2 separate regions of the Homo sapiens genome follow, and region 2 is linked to region 1. Evidence: fine-mapped expression QTL. A gene starts in region 1. The other region holds a variant in brackets. All regions are shown on one strand. Distances are between the middles of the regions.

Evidence for each region. PIP is the estimated chance that this variant, and not a neighbour inherited with it, causes the effect.
Region 2: its variant is the best candidate, but not a certain one, in a credible set for the expression of NXPE3 in pancreas (GTEx, PIP 0.51).

What each region holds. Positions count from the first base shown.
Region 1 is chr3:101,776,377-101,781,623 of GRCh38, forward strand. NXPE3 (neurexophilin and PC-esterase domain family member 3) reads left to right here and starts at 2,835. Exons shown (of 8, transcript NM_145037.4): 1 at 2,835-2,948. RefSeq lists enhancers at 2,649-2,943, 3,508-3,557 and a silencer at 2,748-3,097.
Region 2 is chr3:101,746,075-101,751,321 of GRCh38, forward strand. The region is part of intron 6 of CEP97 (centrosomal protein 97); the gene reads left to right. Among named protein-coding and RNA genes, the nearest start is that of CEP97, 24 kb to the left of the region's middle. The variant C/T (reference allele first, on the strand shown) is at 2,817.

The DNA.
Region 1 (5,247 bases):
CTCTCAAGGCTGAGGCAGAAGAATCGCTTGAACCCGGGAGGTGGAGGTTGCAGTGAGCCGAGATTCTGCCACCTCACTCCAGACTGAGCGACAGAGTGAGACTCCATCTCAAAAAAAAAAAAAAATGCTACTGATGTTATTTTGATTATCAGTGGAATTTGATTTGAGGACTACTGAACTGCAGAAATCAAGAGTGGAGGAAAAAAAAATTGATCTCATTTTTCCCTAAACTATGCATGTGAGATTAGCCATCATTAATTATAACTTTTTTTTTTTTTTGAGACAGTTTCGCTCTTGTTGCTCAGGCTGGAGTGCAATGGCGTGATCTCGGCTCACTGCAACCTCCGCCACCCGAGTTCAAGCGATTCTTCTGCCTCAGCCTCCCGAGTAGCTGGGATTACAGGCGCCTGCCACTATGCCCGGCTAATGTTTTTGTATTTTTAGTAGAGACGGGGTTTCACCATGTTGGCCAGGCTGGTCTCAAACTCCTGACCTCAGGAGATCCACCTGCCTCAGCCTCCCAAAGTGTTGGGATTACAGGCATGAGCACCGCGCCTGGCCAATTATGACTTTTAAAAGGAAAATATGTCCATTAATTTGAGAGCATGGACCAACGCAGTAGTGACATCAACTACTTCACTCACTTTCAGTCTCTTACCCTTGGCAGCCTCCTCCAATTGTTCATGGTGTTTTGGAACAGAGTGGTTGGTACCTAATGTGACAGTGGTCACTTAATTTTCAGTAGGTAGATGGCCTTGGGGCCCAAATTTCAGTGACTTGTTCAAAGGGAGGAAGCAAAGGAACTGAATGAGGAACTGACTTGGGCTCAGGAGTATGCATGTAGGCCTCCGTGAAAACATCTGAATGAACACAGAGTCCACTGTGGTCAAGAAATATAAAAATACTTAATGTGCTTGTGCCTCAAGCTTCTGCCATCAGGGACAGGTTTATTTGCTTTTATTTGTCTACTCTTAAGATCTATGCTTTGTTTTGCTTAGAGAATCAAGTTTAGCATTAATAAACACTAGTGTGTAAACTACATTTTCAGATGGGGCAGAAATGACCAGTTCCTTTGGTTTCATATCATCATATAAACATTTTTTTATTTTTTGAGACAGGGCCTCACTCTGTCACCCAGGCTGGAGTGCAGTGGCTGCTCTTATTTGTGGTTATGACTGTAAAATATAGGTAAATATAGGTAAGATCACTCAAATGCCTCAGGGTTATGAGTGCTTGGGGGAGAATGGGGTCAATGAGGTCCAAAACCATGACCTAGAAGTCATCTTGTCCTAAGTATTTTACCACTTGTAAGACAGCCAAGCTGTACATGAGGCGGGGGATCCTACTGGGAGATAAAGCATAATCAGAGCAGAAGTCTAGTATATGAGGCTCTTCTTCGATAGCAGAAGGAAGCTACCCTTTTATGTCCTCAAAAGGTCCCAGAGTGCTGTATTTCCTCGAGGAAGAAGGAGTATCAGATCATTACTACAATGGTTGAACTAGTTTACAGTCCCACCAACAGTGTAAACGTGTTCCTACTTCTCCACATCCTCTCCACCACCTGTTGTTTCCTGACTTTTTAATGATCGCCATTCTAACTGGTGTGAGATGGTATCTCATTGTGGTTTTGATTTGCATTTCTCTGATGGCCAGTGCTGATGAGCATTTTTTCATGTGTTTGTTGGCTGCATAAATGAACACTTGGACACAGGAAGGGGAACATCACACACCTGGGCATGTTGTGGGGTAGGGGGAGGGGGGAGGGATAGCATTAGGAGATATACTTAATGTAAATGACGAGTTAATGGGTGCAGCATACCAACATGGCACATGTATACATATGTAACAAACCTGCACGTTGTGCACATGTACCCTAGAACTTAAAGTATATTAAAAAAAAAAAAAAGAAGATCATTACTACAGAAGAGATCTTCCACCCTGTGGCAGAACTTCCTTTTATCCCATTCACGGATCTGGTTGCCCACGAAGCAGGCCTGCCATGAAAACATCTGAATGAGCATGCAGAGTCCATTATGGTCAAGAAATGGAAAAATACTTAGTTGTCATGTACATTAATTATTTTTCTTAAACCTTGGGGTAATAGTCCGGGGGCAGGCCTGCTTTTGGGGCCTGTGTTAACCCCACTGTGCTCCAAGCACAGAGAAACACGGTGCAGCCCACAATTCCTTCTGGTTTCTTGAACAAGTGTCTTCTCAGGACTCCTCTCAGTTCCTGAATTTCACAAAACTGCTACCGACGTTTTACCAGTTAGAAAAATGTCCAAAATAGGATAACCCAGAATTGGGGATGGTGGAGGGTGAGGAAAGTATGCTTTGCCAAGAGACCGACATCATGTACAGTGAGAGTAAAAGGAACGGGCTGTTTTACTGGCGAGTAGAAGTTGTTGACTAATGTCAAAGCAAGGAAAAGATTCAAGGATCCGCTATATCCGTGCTTATACTTGGCAAATCGCATTTCTCTGGTTCAGGGCACAATAAATTCCATCACTCCACAGGAAAGACTGCCCTACTAGAGTCAACTGCGGTTGTGGGCACTTTCGCTGACAAGCGAAAAGCCTTGAGGTAGGTGGATGCTCCCAGGAAACTCAGACGTCCGAAGTTCACGAGGAGTTGGGTCGTGAGAGGGGCCAGACCTCGATCCGCGGGGCGACAGCTGCAGTGTCGCGTCGCGAGCAGGAGCTTGGCGGCGTAGAGCGCCAGGGTGCCAACTTCGCTTCCAGGCCTGTGGGTTCCGCCCGGCGCGTGCTGCTGTCAGTCAACGCCCTCGGCCCGCCCCCGCCGAAGCTCCACCAATCGTAGCCGGGGGTCGGAGGTGAGGAGACGTCGCCGGGTGAGGAAGCGGGGGGCTAGCGGCCTGGCGCTGCGGCGACCGACCGGGGCGTCAGGATCCCTGGCCCCCGGAGAGCGAAGGGCGGGCGGGTCCCGGAGGTGAGTGCTGGATGTGGTCTGTGTGCGGACGTCGGGAGGGGCCGCTGCGGGCGGAGCGACCCATTGCCCGGCTCTGCCAGCGCGCTCCTAGACTGCGAAGCCCCTCCCTCCGCGCGCATCTGCTCCCGAGTCCCCAGCCCCGTGCTGATAGGTGCAGCCCCTGGAGTCGTGGCTGTGGGCATAGGTGCCAGGGAGGGGAGGCCCGGGTCGAAGGCATAGGCAGAATTGGAGCCCTGGGTTGCCAAAGCGTCGCAGCTAAGAAGCCGGAGCCCAGGCTAGTACCGGCGGGGCGGGGCGGGGCGGGGCCGGGAGCGAGCATCTCCATCCTCAGTTTCCTCCACTTGCGGCAACGCCACAGCTCGGTACAGTTCGGACCTCCACGCCGCAGCGAAAGACTTCTGTCCTCCAGGCACCTTCACTAACCCGGTGCGGAGCACTTGGCGACGCCTCCCTGCCCATCTCATATCTCTCGGCTCATCGCTGCTCTGGGCACCAGCTGCCTCTTGGCTGGCGCTGCTGTCACACGGTGGACTGTTCTGGCCTTACTGAGCTGCCGTTTGGGGACATCAGATTCAGGTCGTATGGGGAGAAACGAGTGTAACTTTACAAGGTGTGATATGGAGACCCTGGCCTGTTGCCCATTTCTGCCTGATCAAAGGCCACTAGGGTGGTAATAAGAGGGGTTCCGAGGCAGGATTTATGCAGCATTTGTGCAAAATTGTAAATTTTCTTTGCTTTTCATTATTTACATTAAAGGGGGATTGTTGCCACATTTCCTAAAGATAAAGAATCACACTGCTTTGGTGGGCCTCCCCGCTCCTCACTGTGGTTAATTATCATTTGGAACATCAGGATATATTTGAAACTGGCAGGACTCCCAGACCCTGATAATTGTTTGGAGGCAGCAGTATACTATTTCTCCGTAGTGTTTGGGTTCTGCTTTTCTTTGAATTTGTTTAGTATTTTTTTTTCCATGTCTGTTATCCTCACAATCTCTTTGGGGCCAATAGAGTGCTGTTATTTGTTACTGAGAAAGGAAACGAAGGGATAAATCACTGAAGTGGGGTTAGCCTTCCCCATTGCCTGGGAATTGGGTTGTCCTGACCTGACAATTTAAGTTACAATTCAAACATCATTTTGGAAAGGCCATCCTTTTACCAACTGAAACGAATAACAGTCCCTGGCCACTCTATACTAGTGGTTCTCCCACTTGGCTGTATGTTGTAATCATCTAGGGACCTTTTTAAAAAAAGCTACTTCTTGGGCCTATTCCTACAGATTCTGATTTAATTGTTTGAGTGGGGCCCAGTTGTTTGTATTTTAAAAAGCTTCCACGATGATTATTAATGTTCATGCAGGGTTGAGGACCACAACCTATCAATGTGTTCAATATTTAAAAAATAGCACTTAGTACAGTGTGACTTATATAACTGATTTTATTACTTCTCCACTTGCTATGTAACCTCCATGAATACATGGGGCCCTGCTTTGGAAGAAGGGCAAGGGAAGGTCCAGATGAGTCAGCACTTTGTGCATGTGAGGCTGCGGGACACGAAGGAGAAATGGAATCTGTGGAAACAAGTCCTGCAGACTACTGCCCCTGCTTCATCTTTTTTCAAGGATTGACCCTATTTGGTTAACCCATCATTGTTAGGGTCCTGGATGGGTCTCCAGTTCTTCATTCTGTAGATCCTGCCCTGTTTCAAGGTCTTACTCAGCATCCTATGAAATACAGCTACTCTTTGCAAAGTTTGAAATATATGCATTTAAGTGTAGATATTTTCCATGTAAATCTGTGCTTTTGTCTCTTACTATTGTTCTGAACTATATATTCTGAACTAAAGTTCCAGACACTTGCTGTGACTAGTACAGTTACATTTATTTGGCCAACAGGTCAGAGTAGTTAGGATAGGGACTGCCTCAGAAACTGGACAGTTTCTATGCAGTTGTCCTATAATATATTATCTTTGTGGAATGGTTGCCTGAGAACATTAGCTCCCCAGAGGATAGGGTTGCTGTCTGATTTTCTTTGTTTAATATTGAACTCAGGAATTTCATTTGTGTTACTGACAATTGTAATTCCAAATGATGTAAGTGACTGCTTTGTAATTCTCTTGTGAGATGGGGGTAGGAACCCTAATGGCAGTCTGGGGTTGTTGTCACAGGCCATAAAGAAGTTAGATTGGCCACTATGAGTCTTGGATATGGAAGTAGGCTTAATAAAAATTTGGCAGAACACTTCCAACAAATACTGGGTTCCACATGTAAGGCAGAGCATGCATTTAACTTTTTGCTTGTT
Region 2 (5,247 bases), 30 kb before region 1:
GGACATGAACTCATTATTTTTTATGGCTGCATAGTATTCCATGGTGTATATGTGCCACATTTTCTTAATCCAGTCTATCATTGTTGGACATTTGGGTTGGTTCCAAGTCTTTGCTATTGTGAATAATGCCACAATAAACATATGTGTGCATGTGTCTTTATAGCAGCATGATTTATAGCATCACACTACCTGACTTTAAACTATACTACAAGGCTACAGTAACCAAAACAGCATGGTACTGATACCAAAACAGAGATATAGATCAATGGAACAGAACAGAGCCCTCAGAAATAACGCCGCATATCTACAACTATCTGATCTTTGACAAACCTGAGAAAAACAAGCAATGGGGAAAGGATTCCCTATTTAATAAATGGTGCTGGGAAAACTGGCTAGCCATATGTAGAAAGCTGAAACTGGATCCCTTCCTTACACCTTATACAAAAATCAATTCAAGATGGATTAAAGACTTAAACGTTAGACCTAAAACCATAAAAACCCTAGAAGAAAACCTAGGCATTACCATTCAGGACATAGGCATGGGCAAGGACTTCATGTCTAAAACACCAAAAGCAATGGCAACAAAAGATAAAATTGACAAATGGGATCTCATTAAACTAAAGACCTTCTGCACAGCAAAAGAAACTACCATCAGAGTCAACAGGCAACCTACAAAATGGGAGAAAATTTTTGCAACCTACTCACCTGACAAAGGGCTAATATCCAGAATCTACAATGAACTCAAACAAATTTACAAGAAAAAAACAAACAACCCCATCAAAAAGTGGGCAAAGGACATGAACAGACACTTCTCAAAAGAAGACATTTATGCAGCCAAAAAACACATGAAAAAATGCTCACCATCACTGGCCATCAGAGAAATGCAAATCAAAACCACAATGAGATACCATCTCACACCAGTTAGAATGGCAATCATTAAAAAGTCAGGAAACAACAGGTGCTGGAGAGGATGTGGAGAAACAGGAACACTTTTACACTGTTGGTGGGACTGTAAACTAGTTCAACCATTGTGGAAGTCAGTGTGGCGATTCCTCAGGAATCTAGAACTAGAAATAACATTTGACCCAGCCATCCCATTACTGGGTATATACCCAAAGGACTATAAATCATGCTGTTGGAGCATTTTAAAAGCAAATATCAGATACCCTTTTATTCAGAACTCCTTTTTTTTTTTTTTTTTTTGAGACGGAATCTCACTCTGTCGCCCAGGTTGGAGTGCAGTGGCACGATCTCGGCTCACTGCAAGCTCTGCCTCCCGTATTCTGGCCATTCTCCTGCCTCAGCCTCCCGAGTAGCTGGGACTATAGGCGCCTGCCACCACGCCCGGCTAATTTTTTGTGTTTTTAGTAGAGATGGGGTTTCACTGTGTTAGCCAGGATGGTCTCGATCTCCTGACCTTGTGATCCGCCCACCTCAGCCTCCCAAAGTTTTGGGATTACAGGCGTGAGCCACCGCGCCTGGCCTTCCTTTTTTTTTTTTTGAGACAGTTTCGCTCTTGTTGCCCAGGCTGGAGTGCAGTGGTGCGATCTCGGCTCACTGCAACCTCTGCCTCCTTGGTTCAAGCAATTCTCCTGCCTCTGCCACCCTAGTAGCTGGTATTACATTTTTTTTTTTTTTAAAGAGACAGAGCAGGTTGTTTTAAGTTCCCTTTCTTAATAGTTGTTACTTCTCTTGTTTTAAGTAAACAGTTCCTTCACTTTCAAGAGTGGAATCATAATGCAATGACTTGAAATTAATATGTTAGAGGCCAGGCATGGTGGCTCATGCCTGTAATCTTAGTGCCTGGGAAGGTCAACACAGGAGGATCACTTGAAGTCAGCAGTTCAAGACCAGACTGGGCAGCATAGTGAGTCCCCATCTCTAAAAAAAAAATAAAAAATGAAAAAATTAGCTGGGTATGCTGGTGCATACCTGTAGTTTCAGCTACTTGGGAGGCTGAGGTGGGAGGATTGAGTGAGCCCAGCAGTTTGAGGCTGCAGTGAGCCATGATAGTGCCATTGCACTCCAGCCTGGGTGGCAGAGAGACCTTGTCTCAAAAAAAAAAAAAAAAAAAAAAAAAGATTAATATGTTAGAGCTGAATGAGTCTTAATTTTTTTTTTAATTGAAAATGGTATTTTAATTGACAGGGAGTTTTTGTTTTTGGTTTTTTTTTTACGTAGGATTTAATATAATTTGTGTAGGGATAAGTTTATTGATGAATTCATGTGAAGCAAAGTGGAAAATCAGATCTTATAGCAGTTGACGATCTACAGTTTGTGTTTTTTTTCACAAAAACTTAAACTGTGGGATATTCAAACTTGAGCCCTTTCTTCTAGCCTCTTAGTTTCAGTTTTCTGTCTTCCCAAAGTACAGATCATCTCTAACTTAGAAATATTGCTTGCTGAGAAATATTAAAGTTGGCGATTGTCTTCTACTCTGGACCTATTTTTGTACAACCTTTCAACATGCCATTTGTTTGGCAGGAGAATGTATGCAGACTTAGAGCAGATTTCATGAAGATTCTAAATGATTTTGATTTAGTCCACAGGGATGTTTCCATGGAAGAATACTTCTTTTTCTTTTGAGATGGAGTCTCACTCTGTTGCCCAGGCTGGAGTGCAGTGGCGCAATCTCGGCTTACTGCAAGCTCCGCCTCCTGGGTTCATACCATTCTCCTGCCTCAGTCTCCCGAGTAGCTGGGACTACAGGTGCATGCCACCACGCCTGGCTAATTTTTTGTATTTTTAGTAGAGACGGGGTTTCACCGTGTTAGCCAGGATGGTCTCAATCTCCTGACCTCATGATCCGCCCACCT[C/T]GGCCTCCCAAAGTGCTGGGATTACAGGTGTGAGCCACTGCGCCCGGCCCATGGAAGGAATACTTCTAATTATCTTTATTAAATAAACTAAACTTTTTTGGTTAAATTTTATTGTTATTATACTTTAAGTTTTAGGGTACATGTGCACAACGTGCAGGTTAGTTACATATGTATACGTGTGCCATGCTGGTGTGCGGCACCCATTAACTCGTCATTTAGCATTAGGTATATCTCCTAATGCTATCCCTCCCCCCTCCCCCCACCCCACAACAGTCCCCAGAGTGTGATGGTCCCCTTCCTGTGTCCATGTGTTCTCATTGTTCAATTCCCACCTATGAGTGAGAACATGCGGTGTTTGGATTTTTGTCCTTGTGATAGTTTACTGAGAATGATAATTTCCAATTTCATCCATGTCCCTACAAAGGACATGAACTCATCATTTTTTATGGCTGCATAGTATTCCATGGTGTATATGTGCCACATTTTCTTAATCCAGTCTATCATTGTTGGACATTTGGGTTGGTTCCAAGTCTTTGCTATTGTGAATAGTGCTGCAATAAACATACGTGTGCATGTGTCTTTATAGCAGCATGATTTATAGTCCTTTGGGTATATACCCAGTAATGGGTTGGCTGGGTCAAATGGTATTTCTAGTTCTAGATTCCTGAGGAATCGCCACACTGACTTCCACAATGGTTGAACTAGTTTACAGTCCCACCAACAGTGTAAAAGTGTTCCTATTTCTCCACATCCTCTCCAGCACCTGTTGTTTCCTGACTTTTTAATGATTGCCATTCTAACTGGTGTGAGGTGGTATCTCATTGTGGTTTTGATTTGCATTTCTCTGATGGCCAGTGATGGTGAGCATTTTTTCATGTGTTTTTTGGCTGCATAAATGTCTTCTTTTGAGAAGTGTCTGTTCATGTCCTTTGCCCACTTTTTGATGGGGTTGTTTGTTTTTTTCTTGTAAATTTGTTTGAGTTCATTGTAGATTCTGGATATTAGCCCTTTGTCAGATGAGTAGGTTGTGAAAATTTTCTCCCATTTTGTAGGTTGCCTGTTCACTGTGATGGTAGTTTCTTTTGCTGTGCAGAAGCTCTTTAGTTTAATGAGATCCCATTTGTCAATTTTGTCTTCTGTTGCCATTGCTTTTGGTGTTTAGACATGAAGTCCTTGCCCATGCCTATGTCCTGAATGGTAATGCCTAGGTTTTCTTCTAGGGTTTTTATGGTTTTAGGTCTAACGTTTAAGTCTTTAATCCATCTTGAATTGATTTTTGTATAAGGTGTAAGGAAGGGATCCAGTTTCAGCTTTCTACATATGGCTAGCCAGTTTTCCCAGCACCATTTATTAAATAGGGAATCCTTTCCCCATTGCTTGTTTTTCTCAGGTTTGTCAAAGATCAGATAGTTGTAGATATGCGGCGTTATTTCTGAGGGCTCTGTTCTGTTCCATTGATCTATATCTCTGTTTTGGTACCAGTACCATGCTGTTTTGGTTACTGTAGCCTTGTAGTATAGTTTGAAGTCAGGTAGTGTGATGCCTCCAGCTTTGTTCCCTCTTTTTCTATTGATTGGAATAGTTTCAGAAGGAATGGTACCAGTTCCTCCTTGTACCTCTGGTAGAATTTGGCTGTGAATCCATCTGGTCCTGGACTCTTTTTGGTTGGTAAGGTATTGATTATTGCCACAATTTCAGAGCCTGTTATTGGTCTGTTCAGAGATTCAACTTCTTCCTGGTTTAGCCTTGGGAGGGTGTATGTGTCGAGGAATTTATCCATTTCTTCTTGATTTTCTAGTTTATTTGCGTAGAGGTGTTTGTAGTATTCTCTGATGGTAGTTTGTATTTCTGTAGGATCGGTGGTGATATCCCCTTTGTCATTTTTTATTGTGTCTATTTGATTCTTCTCTCTTTTCTTCTTTATTAGTCTTGGTAGTGGTCTATCAATTTTGTTGATCCTTTCAAAAAACCAGCTCCTGGATTCATTAATTGTTTGAAGGGTTTTTTGTGTCTCTATTTCCTTCAGTTCTGCTCTGATGTTAGTTATTTCTTGCCTTCTGCTAGCTTTTGAATGTGTTTGCTCTTGCTTTTCTAGTTCTTTTAATTGTGATGTTAGGGTGTCAATTTTGGATCTTTCCTGCTTTCTCTTGTGGGCATTTAGTGCTATAAATTTCCCTCTACACACTGCTTTGAATGTGTGCCAGAGATTCTGGTATGTTGTGTCTTTGTTCTTGTTGGTTTCAAAGAACATCTTTATTTCTGCCTTCATTTCGTTATGTACCCAGTAGTCAATCTGGAGCAGGTTGTTCAGTTACCATGTAGTTGAGCGGTTTTGAGTGAGTTTCTTAATCCTGAGTTCTAGTTTGATTGCACTGTGGTCTGAGAGACAGTTTGTTATAATTTCTGTTCTTTTACATTTGCTGAGGAGAGC